Linked DNA regions of Homo sapiens: region 1 is linked to region 2. A link means that fine-mapping ties the variant in region 2 to the expression of a gene that starts in the linked region. Tissue or cell type: whole blood. Region 2 holds a variant in brackets; the other region holds the start of a gene. All regions are shown on one strand. Distances are between the middles of the regions. Region 1 holds the start of TNFRSF14 (TNF receptor superfamily member 14). Region 2 holds the start of MMEL1 (membrane metalloendopeptidase like 1).

What was found. PIP is the estimated chance that this variant, and not a neighbour inherited with it, causes the effect. A credible set is the group of variants that fine-mapping cannot tell apart.
Region 1: it holds the start of TNFRSF14, and the variant in region 2 is the best candidate, but not a certain one, in a credible set for the expression of TNFRSF14 in whole blood (INTERVAL, PIP 0.52).

The regions. Positions count from the first base shown.
Region 1 is chr1:2,553,660-2,559,016 of GRCh38, forward strand. TNFRSF14 (TNF receptor superfamily member 14) reads left to right here and starts at 2,712. Exons shown (of 8, transcript NM_003820.4): 1 at 2,712-3,074; 2 at 4,067-4,175; 3 at 4,684-4,809. The coding sequence starts at 3,006. It overlaps TNFRSF14-AS1 (TNFRSF14 antisense RNA 1), which reads right to left and starts at 3,352. Exons shown (of 7, transcript NR_037844.2): 1 at 3,318-3,352; 2 at 1,065-3,037; 3 at 442-637; 4 at 1-155.
Region 2 is chr1:2,631,281-2,636,640 of GRCh38, forward strand. It overlaps MMEL1 (membrane metalloendopeptidase like 1), which reads right to left and starts at 1,736. Exons shown (of 24, transcript NM_033467.4): 1 at 1,586-1,736. It overlaps MMEL1-AS1 (MMEL1 antisense RNA 1), which reads left to right. Exons shown (of 3, transcript NR_183343.1): 2 at 1,222-1,395; 3 at 5,076-5,340. The variant G/T (reference allele first, on the strand shown) is at 2,608.

The DNA.
Region 1 (5,357 bases), 78 kb before region 2:
ATCTGCTCTGCACACCGTCCACTAGCCTGACAGCTGCCCAAAGCCTCCAGAGCACAGAACGGGCCTGGTGTCTGCGCCTCCGTCTCGGGGTGGGCCACGGCCGGTTCTGTGTCCCGTCCCCTCCCCGCTCACCAGCGGTGGACCCCAGCTTCCCTCTGCAGCAGCACTCAACTCACACACTTTCTCAGAGACGCGCAGCCCACCTCGCCCCCGCAGTTTCCTCTTCATCCCTCAGAGCCCCCCATGGCCTGGGCAGTCCATCCTGAGTGTCCGCACCACACGACTGTAGACGTTTGGCTTCTGGACTCAAATCCTTCACCAGATCGTGACCAGGATGGCAATGACCAGGCCTCGGCCTCAGCCCCCTGCCTGGCCTGCACTGGCACAGCATTGGGTCTGGGGAGTCCCCGCGACAGGAGGCGTGGGGCTCGGGGTGCTCACCTGCCTCCCTCTCCCTGCTGGTAATGGTGGGCCCCGGGATGGGGGCAGTGATATCCTGCGGGCAGCCGTGTCAATGCAGATGGCTGGGTGCTGGGTAGGGCCCCGTCTCCCGCCTCCTTGGGCTGCCTCATTTCCTTCCTGATGACCCTGGGGTCCTGCACAGGGCCTGGCGGTGCTGGTGCCGGGAGAGCCCACGCTGAATGGATGAAGGAGTGAGTGCTGTACTTAGCGGGGGGCGCTGAGCGCTGGGTGGGGAGCCCAGGACATTTCCTCCTGCTGCCCGGGAGGTAACACCCTGGACCCCTGGAGTCTGCATTCTGTGAGAGCGGGCAGGCCACAGAGAAGGGAGAAAAGGGACGGAGGGCCGAGGCGGGCGGATACGGGGAGCAGGGAGCGGGGACAGGGCTTACTCAGCAATCAGAGAAGGCCTCAAGGAAGAGGTGACATTTCAGCAAAGACCTGGCACTGTCTGTGCCCTCGGTGGGGCAGATGGGCTCCCTTCAGCCCCCTTGAGGCCTGGCACCTGGGGCCCTATGTCAGGCTTGGGGCCTTGGTGTGGGAGCTGAAGTCGGGGTAGGAGGGGCATGGAGGAAGGGGCAGGAGGGGCTGAGTCTCACTGATGCCTGTGTTAGTCTTGTCTCTTGCCATGCCTCAGTTTCCCTCCTCCCCAGGGTGGGGTGGATGAGACGACTCTGGAGGACGTATCTGAGAGAGTGGGGTTGGAGCCCCGTACCGGCAGGTGTAGGCGCTGTGTCTGCTCTTGGAGGTTGGGCGTTCTTGGGGAGTTGGTGAGGGAACGTGCTGTCCCTGCACCCTGGAGCCCCCATGCCCTCCTGGGGCCCCCGGGAGTGGAGGATGCAAGGGGCCCCCTTCTTCTTCCTTGCAAGACCCACATGGCTCTGCATGTGGGGGACATTCCTGGCAGGGGGCGCTGAGGGCCAGGATGTGAGTGCACCAGGGAAACAGCAGATGGGGCTCCTCTCCCAGGCTCCAGCTGTGGGGTGGGAGTCCATGCTCCTGCGTGTCTCTTGGGGGCTTTTCCTCCACTGGGTGCCACCTGGTCCCCCACCCTGCCTCAGAGTATTGGGGTCTGGGCTCGTCCACCCTGGATGCTGGCCAGGAGTGCACCTGCCTCTGGAGCTCGGGACGCTTGGCCCCACAGGACGGTGTCGCACACCACAGCCGGCCTAACTTCACCCCTGCCTGCTCCCTCTCCAGGGCCGGCCTGCAGGGCTGCACACTTTCTAGTTGGGGTGCAGGTCCCCGGGCTCCTGCCACAGATTCCTGTGGCTGGCCACCCTGCCAACTCTCCTGCAGGTGAGGGTGGGCGCAATCCCCAAGGTCCTTTCCACCAGATGCCACTGAGTCCCCCAGGGGCCAGGGCTGGACCCTGGAGGGGGTCACCTGGCTGAAGTCAGGACCAGGAGGGGCAGGGGGCAGTCGAGGGGCAGGGGGCGGTCCTGGGCCAGGCGTCTGGCAGATGGGCTTGCTGGAGGTGGGGGTTCCTGGTGTGCAGCAGGCGGTGCCAGAGGGGGTGACTGGGACCTGCTCTGGGCAAGCACAGGCGGTGCGTGACAGACCTGGGCTTCCATTGACTGCATCACGTCCAGCAGCAGGAAGGGGCCACGGGGGCACTGGCGTCGTCACGTGGGTCACGAGGTTCCATGTGATGCAGGGAGCGAGGCCGTCACGAGGGACTCACTGGTGCCTGCCTTGGGGCTCCGGGACTGTGGGCTGTCTCCATCCGGAGGTCTCCCTACCACCAGGCTCTGTGGGGCAGGGAAGCCCAGTGGGGTGCAGGGAGCCAGGAAGCTGGGGTGGGGTCAGGGCAGGGTCCACAGGGAGACCGGGCGAGGCTGGCAGCCTTCCCAGTCCGCGCAGCGTCTCTGCAGGGGGAGCAAGAGCTGCCCTTCCACCCCTCCCAGGGGACGGGTAGGGGCACTCTGGGCTTTTCCCACCCCCTCACGCAGGGACACAGGCCTGGTGGGTCTATGACTGAAATTGGCCAGACCGCATTCTGGTGGTTTTATTCGGAAGGGAAGTTTACCCTGTTCAGCAGAAGCTGAGATGGGAACAGGAAACCCACAGGGCCCCTTTATTCGGCAAAAATGTCAGTCAGCGCCCCGGGGAGCAGCCGAGGGTCCCTGAGTGTGTGAGTGAGGTGGGGAAACACAGATGGACTTTGGGGGGCTCCCCCTTCTACAGGAAACCCGGAGTGGACTGGAATGGTGCAGGGGGAGAACTCGCCCCTCCCATCGGGCGCCTCCTTCATACCGGCCCTTCCCCTCGGCTTTGCCTGGACAGCTCCTGCCTCCCGCAGGGCCCACCTGTGTCCCCCAGCGCCGCTCCACCCAGCAGGCCTGAGCCCCTCTCTGCTGCCAGACACCCCCTGCTGCCCACTCTCCTGCTGCTCGGGTTCTGAGGCACAGCTTGTCACACCGAGGCGGATTCTCTTTCTCTTTCTCTTTCTCTTCTGGCCCACAGCCGCAGCAATGGCGCTGAGTTCCTCTGCTGGAGTTCATCCTGCTAGCTGGGTTCCCGAGCTGCCGGTCTGAGCCTGAGGCATGGAGCCTCCTGGAGACTGGGGGCCTCCTCCCTGGAGATCCACCCCCAAAACCGACGTCTTGAGGCTGGTGAGCCCCCGAGCCTCCTCTCCGTCTGCTCGCAGATCCCAGTTCTGACCCCAGGGCCTCCCACAGATCTCTTCCCCATGCCCCTGTCCTGGCCGTTGCTGGCTCCGGCGTCCAGCCCGTCCCCTGCTGCCTGGGGCTCTCGGGTCAACCCAGACCCCCAGCACTGGGCTCACCACAGTGGGGTGAGCAGCAGAGCCACAGCCCTACCCAGCAGACCTCCTCCTGCGTGTGTCCCCCACTCACCACTCCGTCCACGGGCAGCTGGTGAGCCCCCATTTGGCCGGATGTGGGCACTTCTGGGGGCTGGGTGTCTCTGGGCGTCTCTGGGCGGGGCCCTCGAGCAGGTGACCCAACTCCCCGGCAGCCCTGACCTTGGTGACAGGTGATAAGATCAGTGTGCAGCAGGGGGCTGGACCCAGGTGGGTGGGGTGGGGATACTCTCCATGCTCATGTGGCACTCCTGCCTGTCCAGCCACTATCCCCATCAGGGGCCCCCGACTGCCCATCAGCCAGCCCAGGAACGAGGCCACGGCAGAGCCACCCTCCCCGATGTGGCCCTGATCAGCCTGTCACCCACTGTCTGGCTTGTGAGCCTCTGGGGCCCATCCCTGGCTGCCCCTGCTGGCTCTTCAGGGGTCAGCAGGTCCAACCTAGGCCAGCAGGGGGGCCGGCAGGTTGTCTGCCCAGTGGGCTCAATGCTCCCAGGTGTGGGGTGTGGGGTCCCTGGCGAGGGCAGAGTTCCAGTTCCCAGGGCTCCGCGCTGCCAGGCAGCGTCATCAGGGCTGGAGGAGGGGCGGTCCCCACCCTATCCCGGGCTCCAGCGGTCGGCAAGGTTGTTCCATGAGCCTGGCCTGGGGCCCGCTTCTGTCCTCTCTACCAGGCACTGCCGCTCCTCCCCATTGCACAGAGGGAGATTCAGGCTGTGGGGCCAAGCCTGGCAGAGCCCACAGGGCAGCCAGGGCATCTCCCAATGCCTGTCCTGACCCCCTTAGGTGCTGTATCTCACCTTCCTGGGAGCCCCCTGCTACGCCCCAGCTCTGCCGTCCTGCAAGGAGGACGAGTACCCAGTGGGCTCCGAGTGCTGCCCCAAGTGCAGTCCAGGTAGGTGCAGCCCTTTGGCGGGCCAGCTCTGTGGGCCGAGGGCAGACACTCTTGCCCCCTTCTGCCCCAGACACCCCTGTGTTCTCTGCCCCCACAGCCATGGGTGTGATGAAGCCCTGGGGCTAGGTGTGCAGACAGTGAGGGCAGAACCCCCAGGCCAGCAGCTTGGACTCTTCACCCTGGGGGACCCTCACAGTCACACTGCACAGGGGGTGGGTCTGAGAGACGTGGCTGGCCCACCGTGGCCAGAGACATGGGCTCGGGGGCACATACCAGAGCCGGGCCAGGTGTCCCAGGAGGCCCCATGTGCTTCCAGAACTTTCCGATTTTCCCCAGAGCAGCTCTGCTCATGGCTGATGGGGCTGCTGTGTCCCGTGGGGCTCATGGGCCATTTGAGTCCCCTTAGCTGGTGTCTCCCTGCTTGGGCTCTGGGCGCGGGTGGAGTGATGGGTGGGCTCCCGAAGGGGCCTCCCGCAGACTTGCGAAGTTCCCACTCTCTGGGCGGCAGGTTATCGTGTGAAGGAGGCCTGCGGGGAGCTGACGGGCACAGTGTGTGAACCCTGCCCTCCAGGCACCTACATTGCCCACCTCAATGGCCTAAGCAAGTGTCTGCAGTGCCAAATGTGTGACCCAGGTAAGAGGCCAGCACAGCCGGCCCAGCCTCCGCTTGGGCAGCCTGGATGCCCCCGCACCCTGCACCCTCTCTCCATGGCCACAGTGCCCCAGGAAGGCCCCGGCTGCCCCAGGCCAGGTCCCAACCCCATCTCCATGGATGCACCCTGCAGGGGACGCCTTGAGGTCAGCCTCCGGCCCCCGTCCACCTCTGTCTCACCTCTCACTTTGTCACCGCCAGGTGGGCCATCCTGAGCTTGGCGACTGACCCTTATCCCTCGTCCTTGGCTCCTCTGGTGCCCGGGGTGGGTGCCCAGACCTCTCCTGTGCCCACGTCCCTAGCTGCAAAGTGGAATGGGATGGTGCTGGGACTCTCCGGCCGGCACTCGGGCCTGCTGCTTCCCCACAGGGCTTCTTGTCCCTTTCTCCTCCAGATATTGGTTCCCCCTGTGACCTCAGGGGAAGAGGTCACCTGGAGGCTGGTGCCCACCTGAGTCCAGGCAGACAGAAAGGGGAACCAGACCCAGAGGTGGCCTTTGAGTCACTGAGCGCAGAGCCTGTCCATGCGGC
Region 2 (5,360 bases):
TAATGTGGGAGCAGCGAAAGGAAGCCAGGCCCAGTCCTGCCTGTGGGTGGGTCAGGGACTGGCTGCTGAGACTGCCAGCACCTGGGCTAAATGTGCTTCCGCCCCCCTGTACCCCACCGCCCCCCTGCTGTGGACTTTGCCTGAGTTCTGTCCCTGACTCCCTGGGAGATCCTAGATGTCCCTTAGCCTGTCTGGGCAACACCCTGCAAAGGTGGCTGGGCCAGCTCATTTCAGCGACTCCTCCAGAGATCCCTGACCTCTGGCTGTGTGAGGAGCGGGGACGGGGACCTGGACCTCACTCCTCTCCTCCAGGTCCCTCGCTCCTCCCTTCCTGTCCCCTCAGCCACCTCTCTCAGTCCCTGGCTCTGTGAACCGCAGCGTTCATGCATCCACACACCCTCAGATGCTTCCTTTGACGCCCTCTGCTGTGCCCCTAGACACCCCTATCCCGCCACTGGCTGAAGCTGGACTTTGGAGCCATCTGCCTCCCTTGCCTGCGTCCACACCCCGCGCCAGTCCTCAGCCTCCAAGCCCATCTCAGTCGGACCCTTTCTCATTCCTGCCACTCGCTGCCTGTTCCAGGCCCCACCAATCACCTCCCCCTGAGGGGTCTGTCTCACCCACTGATCCCCACCACAGGGGCCCAGGGGCCTGTAACTAGAATCAGAGGCCGTCACTCCCTGGCCCCTGGTAGCCAAACCCTTGGAGGAAGAGCCGGGCCTTGCCCTGATGTCAGGACCCTCTTTGGCCCTCCTCCCCTCTCACTATGCCCTCCCCTTACCCTCAGGCAGGCCCACCAGGTTTCTCCCCCCACCCTCCCCACCCACCCAGGCAGGCCTCCCAGATTCCTGCCAAGCTCCCCTTCCCAGTGGGGCCTTCCTTGGCTCGGCCTCGGGTTCAACTCGGGGAGCCCCAGCCCCTCCCCTGCTCTGTGTCTCTCCAGGGACTCCCAGCTCCACCTCCACATCTCCTCGATACTTCTGCAGCCCCCTGGGAACGTCAGCTCCACGGGCAGGGGCACCCTCTGTGGGGGCCGCTTCACCTAGACTGGCACCCCCACCCCAGAGACCTCGGTCATTATCTGTTGGGTGAATGAATGAATGAATGATGAATGAATGGATCAATCATTTGGACAAGTCTGAGCTCAGCTTCCACGAACTTCTTTCTTTGGTCAGAATTAATGAATCTGCTCCTGCGTCCTGAATTCATTCTGTCCTGCAGGTATCCACAGACGGCTCCATGTGCCCCACGGCACACACAAAATAAACACCTTCAAATTGAGCCAAGTACCCGGGGCAGGTGTGGAGTGTCTGCTGAGGCGAAGGCACTGCGGCTCCCTGGGGACACTCGTGGCCTCTCCAGGTTACTACAGATGGGGGACAGCGGGTCCTTTGGGTAAGATAAACCGTATGCCAGAGGGGGCTGCCTGCCCTGGCACAGGCGAGACTGCACACAGGACGCCCTGCCCAGCCTCCTGAGAAAGGGGCTGAGCGCCTGGAGAGGGTTTCAAGGCCCAGGAGAGGGCCTGGAGAGGGTTTCAAGGCCCAGGAAAGCAGGCCGGGTACCTTCCTTCAGCACAACTCACCTTTGCTCACTCAGGAGTGGCTGCCGCCCACAGTCAGGCCCCTGGAGACTGGGTCCCAGTGGGTTGGAGTTGGGGTGAGCTGGGCCAAGTGGGTGGATTTCCAGGGACTGGGATGGGAGAGCAGTGGCTTGGGGCTGAGTTGAGGCTGCCTGAAGGCTTCTGGGCCTCCTTTGTGATGCAGGCATGGGCTCCCTGGAGGCGGTGACTCCTGCTCACAGTCAGGAGGTTCCACTGGGGGTGTGGCATGGGGGGAGGGGCTGAGGGCAGCTTCTTGGCACCCGGGCTGCCCTGCCTCATGGGTGCCCTTCTCAGGGCCTCTGGCCCCGCCTCCCAAGCCGCCCTCCTTCCTTGCTTCTGTCTCCTGACCTTTCAGTCCAAAGGGGCCCCAGGGGCTGCTGGGAGGAAGGTCAGGCCCTTGTCCTACTCCACACCCTCTGCTCTGCCCCTAACCACCCGGTGGGGGGTTACAAAGGCCCCACCCTGGGTGTTCTTTCTCTTCAATCTCCAAGGAGGATGGTGGGTTCTGGGGATCTTGCCAAGGTGCAAGGGGAAGGGGTGGTCCTGAAGGGGGTGGGCGCTGGCTGCCAGGAGGGTCCCACCCAGAGATACTAGCCTGGGTTTGGCTGCTTCCCTCTGCCCACAGAAAACTCATGAGGTTCAGACCTCAAGCTACAGAGGGTGGGCAGCCCTGGCCGGGGAGCTGGCAGAAGGGCTCTGTGGCTTCTGAAGGGTTCGCAGTGATCAGAGTGTGAGCCCTGCACCCAGCCCTGCTTGCGGACGGGGGTTCTGGGCAGAGCAGTCTCTGTCTGATTCTCCAGGCCTGATGAGGTTTCTAGCTTCTGTTTCAGAATCCCCAGAACGAGTCCTCCTGCCCAGGCCTTGGGCATGTGTCAGGGCATCTGGGCAGGGCTGGGCCACAGAGCTAGGGGTCCCACGGCAAACTGCTCCTCACGGCCGCCCCGGCCAGGTCTCCCACGCTGAGTGCTGTTGGAAGCTTTGTCTATGGCCCTTTAGGTTGGCCA[G/T]GCCCTGGGAGGAGAAAGGCTTCGAGCTGCAGCCAGGCTGGGATCAGATCCCAGACACCACCCTGAGCCCGGGAAGTCTCTCCCTGGGGCCCGCTGGCTGTCCTAGCAGCCCCCTGCCATCACGCCCAGCAACCAGCCCAGGAGCTGCAGTCTGGCCTCAGGCTGCCTGGGTTGCTGGCCCAAATGGAAACAATGTCAAGGCCAGCCAAGCAGGAAGCTGGGACCGCCCTTTCTGGGGAGCTGGGAGTGGGCCAGGGTCCAGCCTGGCTGGAGGCTCCTGCTATGGGGAGAGGCCAGAGCCTTTCCGAGCCCACCTGCCCGACAGCCCTGGTGCCAGCAGGCCCTTTCTGGATGTCACAGTGTTCTTGTCTCTAAGGTACAAATCCACAGAGGGAGAAACAGATGCAGGGGCCTGGCCTACTCTCAGCAGGGGCTCCCTGGACTCTGAACCGACTCCCCAAGGCTGGCCCTGTGCATGCTCCTCCTTCCCGAACCCCAGGCCTGTCCAGCCCAGCAGCCCCCAGCCTGGCCCAAGGCCACCTGGTGACCTGGGCTGCCAAACTTGGGACCCCTTATTCCCAGGTTCTCCCTACTTCTAGGTGACAGCAGGAGGCTTGGGTCCTAGCCTGGCACCTGCCAGACAAGAGAAACTGGGAAAGGAGGCTAAAGGCCAAGGAGGCTGCAGACCCCGAGACCTACCCCGGTCACTGGACACTCACAGATTTGCAGGTGCCCAGGGCAGTGCAACCCAGCCGCCCCAAACACCTGCACAGATGACTCTCTCCCCAGACACCCGCACAGACCGTCCCCCCAGACACCCACACAGACCATCCCCCCAGACACCCACACAGACCATCCCCCCAGACACCCACACAGACCATCCCCCCAGACACCCGCACAGACCATCCCCCCAGACAACCTACACAGAATAAACTGTCCCCCCAGATACCTACACAGACCATCCCCCCAACACCCACACAGACCATGCCCCCAAACACCCACACAGACTGTCCCCCCAAACACCCACACAGACCATCCCAACACCCACATAGACCATGCCCCCAAACACTCACACAGACTGGCCCCCCAAACACCCACACAGACCATCCCCCCAACACCCACATAGACCATGCCCCCAAACACCCACACAGACTGTCCCCCCAGACACCCGCACAGACCATCCCAACACCCACATAGACCATGCCCCCAAACACCCACACAGACTGTCCCCCCAGACAACCTACACAGAATAAACTGTCCCCCCAGACACCCACACAGACCATCCCCCCAGACACCCGCACAGACCATCCCCCGCAAATACCTGCATGGATTGTCCCCCCAGACACCCGCATAGCCAGAGCCCAGCACCCCGGAGGTGGACATTAATCCCATCTCCTAGGGAGATTGGGGGAAAATGGGTGTTCCCTGCCCCTCCTACTCTCTGGGTTGCTGTGGGATGTGGAGATCCAAGGAGCAGCCCCAGCTCAGGGGTCCAAGGAGGCAGGTGGGACGGGGGTCAGGGAAGTGCTTCCTGCAGCAGCCCTGGGGCCAGGGTGGGCCTTGAGGGCACTAGCCTTTGTCCACACTGCTGTGGGGCTGCCCTCACCCAGGTTGCCGTGTCCACCCTGCCTTGGGGGCTGCCCTCAGGCCCTGGAGACGCCTGCCTGTGACTGCCCCACACTCTCAGGCCAGGCTACTGGTGGCAGGTCCTGTGCTTTGGTGCACCCCAGACGTGCCCAACGGGCATTTCCTCTGCCCATTGGGAGCAGGGCCTCTCCCTCAGGTCTGCCCAGCTACGCTCTGGGCAGGAATGAGGTGCCCCACTTAGAGAAGATGCACAGGTCAGAAGAGGCTCACCAGCATTTCTGGGTGAGCCTCTTTCCGGCTGCTGGGACGACAGCCGGGCCTCTGGGGTCCCCACCTTCCTTGTCAGCTGCCTCCTGAAGTCAGGCCCTGGGTATCCAGGGCAGGAGGGAAGGGGCCCAGTGGTCCCGCTGCCCCAAAATCTGTGTCATTGAGCCACCAGCCCATCCCCAGTAGCTGGAGCCTCTGCCTCCTCACTTGTGAATTCCAAAAATCTGAGACAGGTCTCAGCCAATTTGGGAAGTTTATTTTGCCAAAATTAAGGATGCACACCTGTGACACAGCCTCAGGAGGTCCTGACATGTGCCCAAGGTGGTCAGAGGACAGCTTGGTTTTATACATTTTAGGGAGATATGAGACATCAATCAACACATGTAAGATAGAGTTACATTCTTTTGAGTTTCTGATGAGCCTTTCCAAAGAAGGCAATCAGATATGCATCTATCTCAGCGAGCGGGGGAATGACTTTGAATGGAATTGGAGGCAGGCTTGCCCTAAGCAGTTCCCAGCTTGACTTTTCCCTTTGGCTTAGTGATTTTGGGGCCCCAAGATTTATTTTCCTTTTACTCTCCTAAAAAGGTTTTTTTTTTTTCTTTTTTTTCCAGATTGATCGCAGAGTTGAACAACAGAGAATGTGTGCACAGTGCCAGGCACAGGTGTGGTCAAGATTCACCTGGGAGAGGAAGTGGGCAGGGGCAGAGGAGTGTGCCCACCTGAGCTGAAAGGCTGCATGGCAGGTGACCATTATCACCAGTGTCGCCAGCCAGGTCACCTCTCTGAATTTTGTGGTTGCAACCTCCATGATTCCCTAGAGCTGTTTTTACCCAGAACTAATGAAAAATTCTGCACATTAAATTCATGCTATTAGAATCACTGTTGTGGTTTCCATC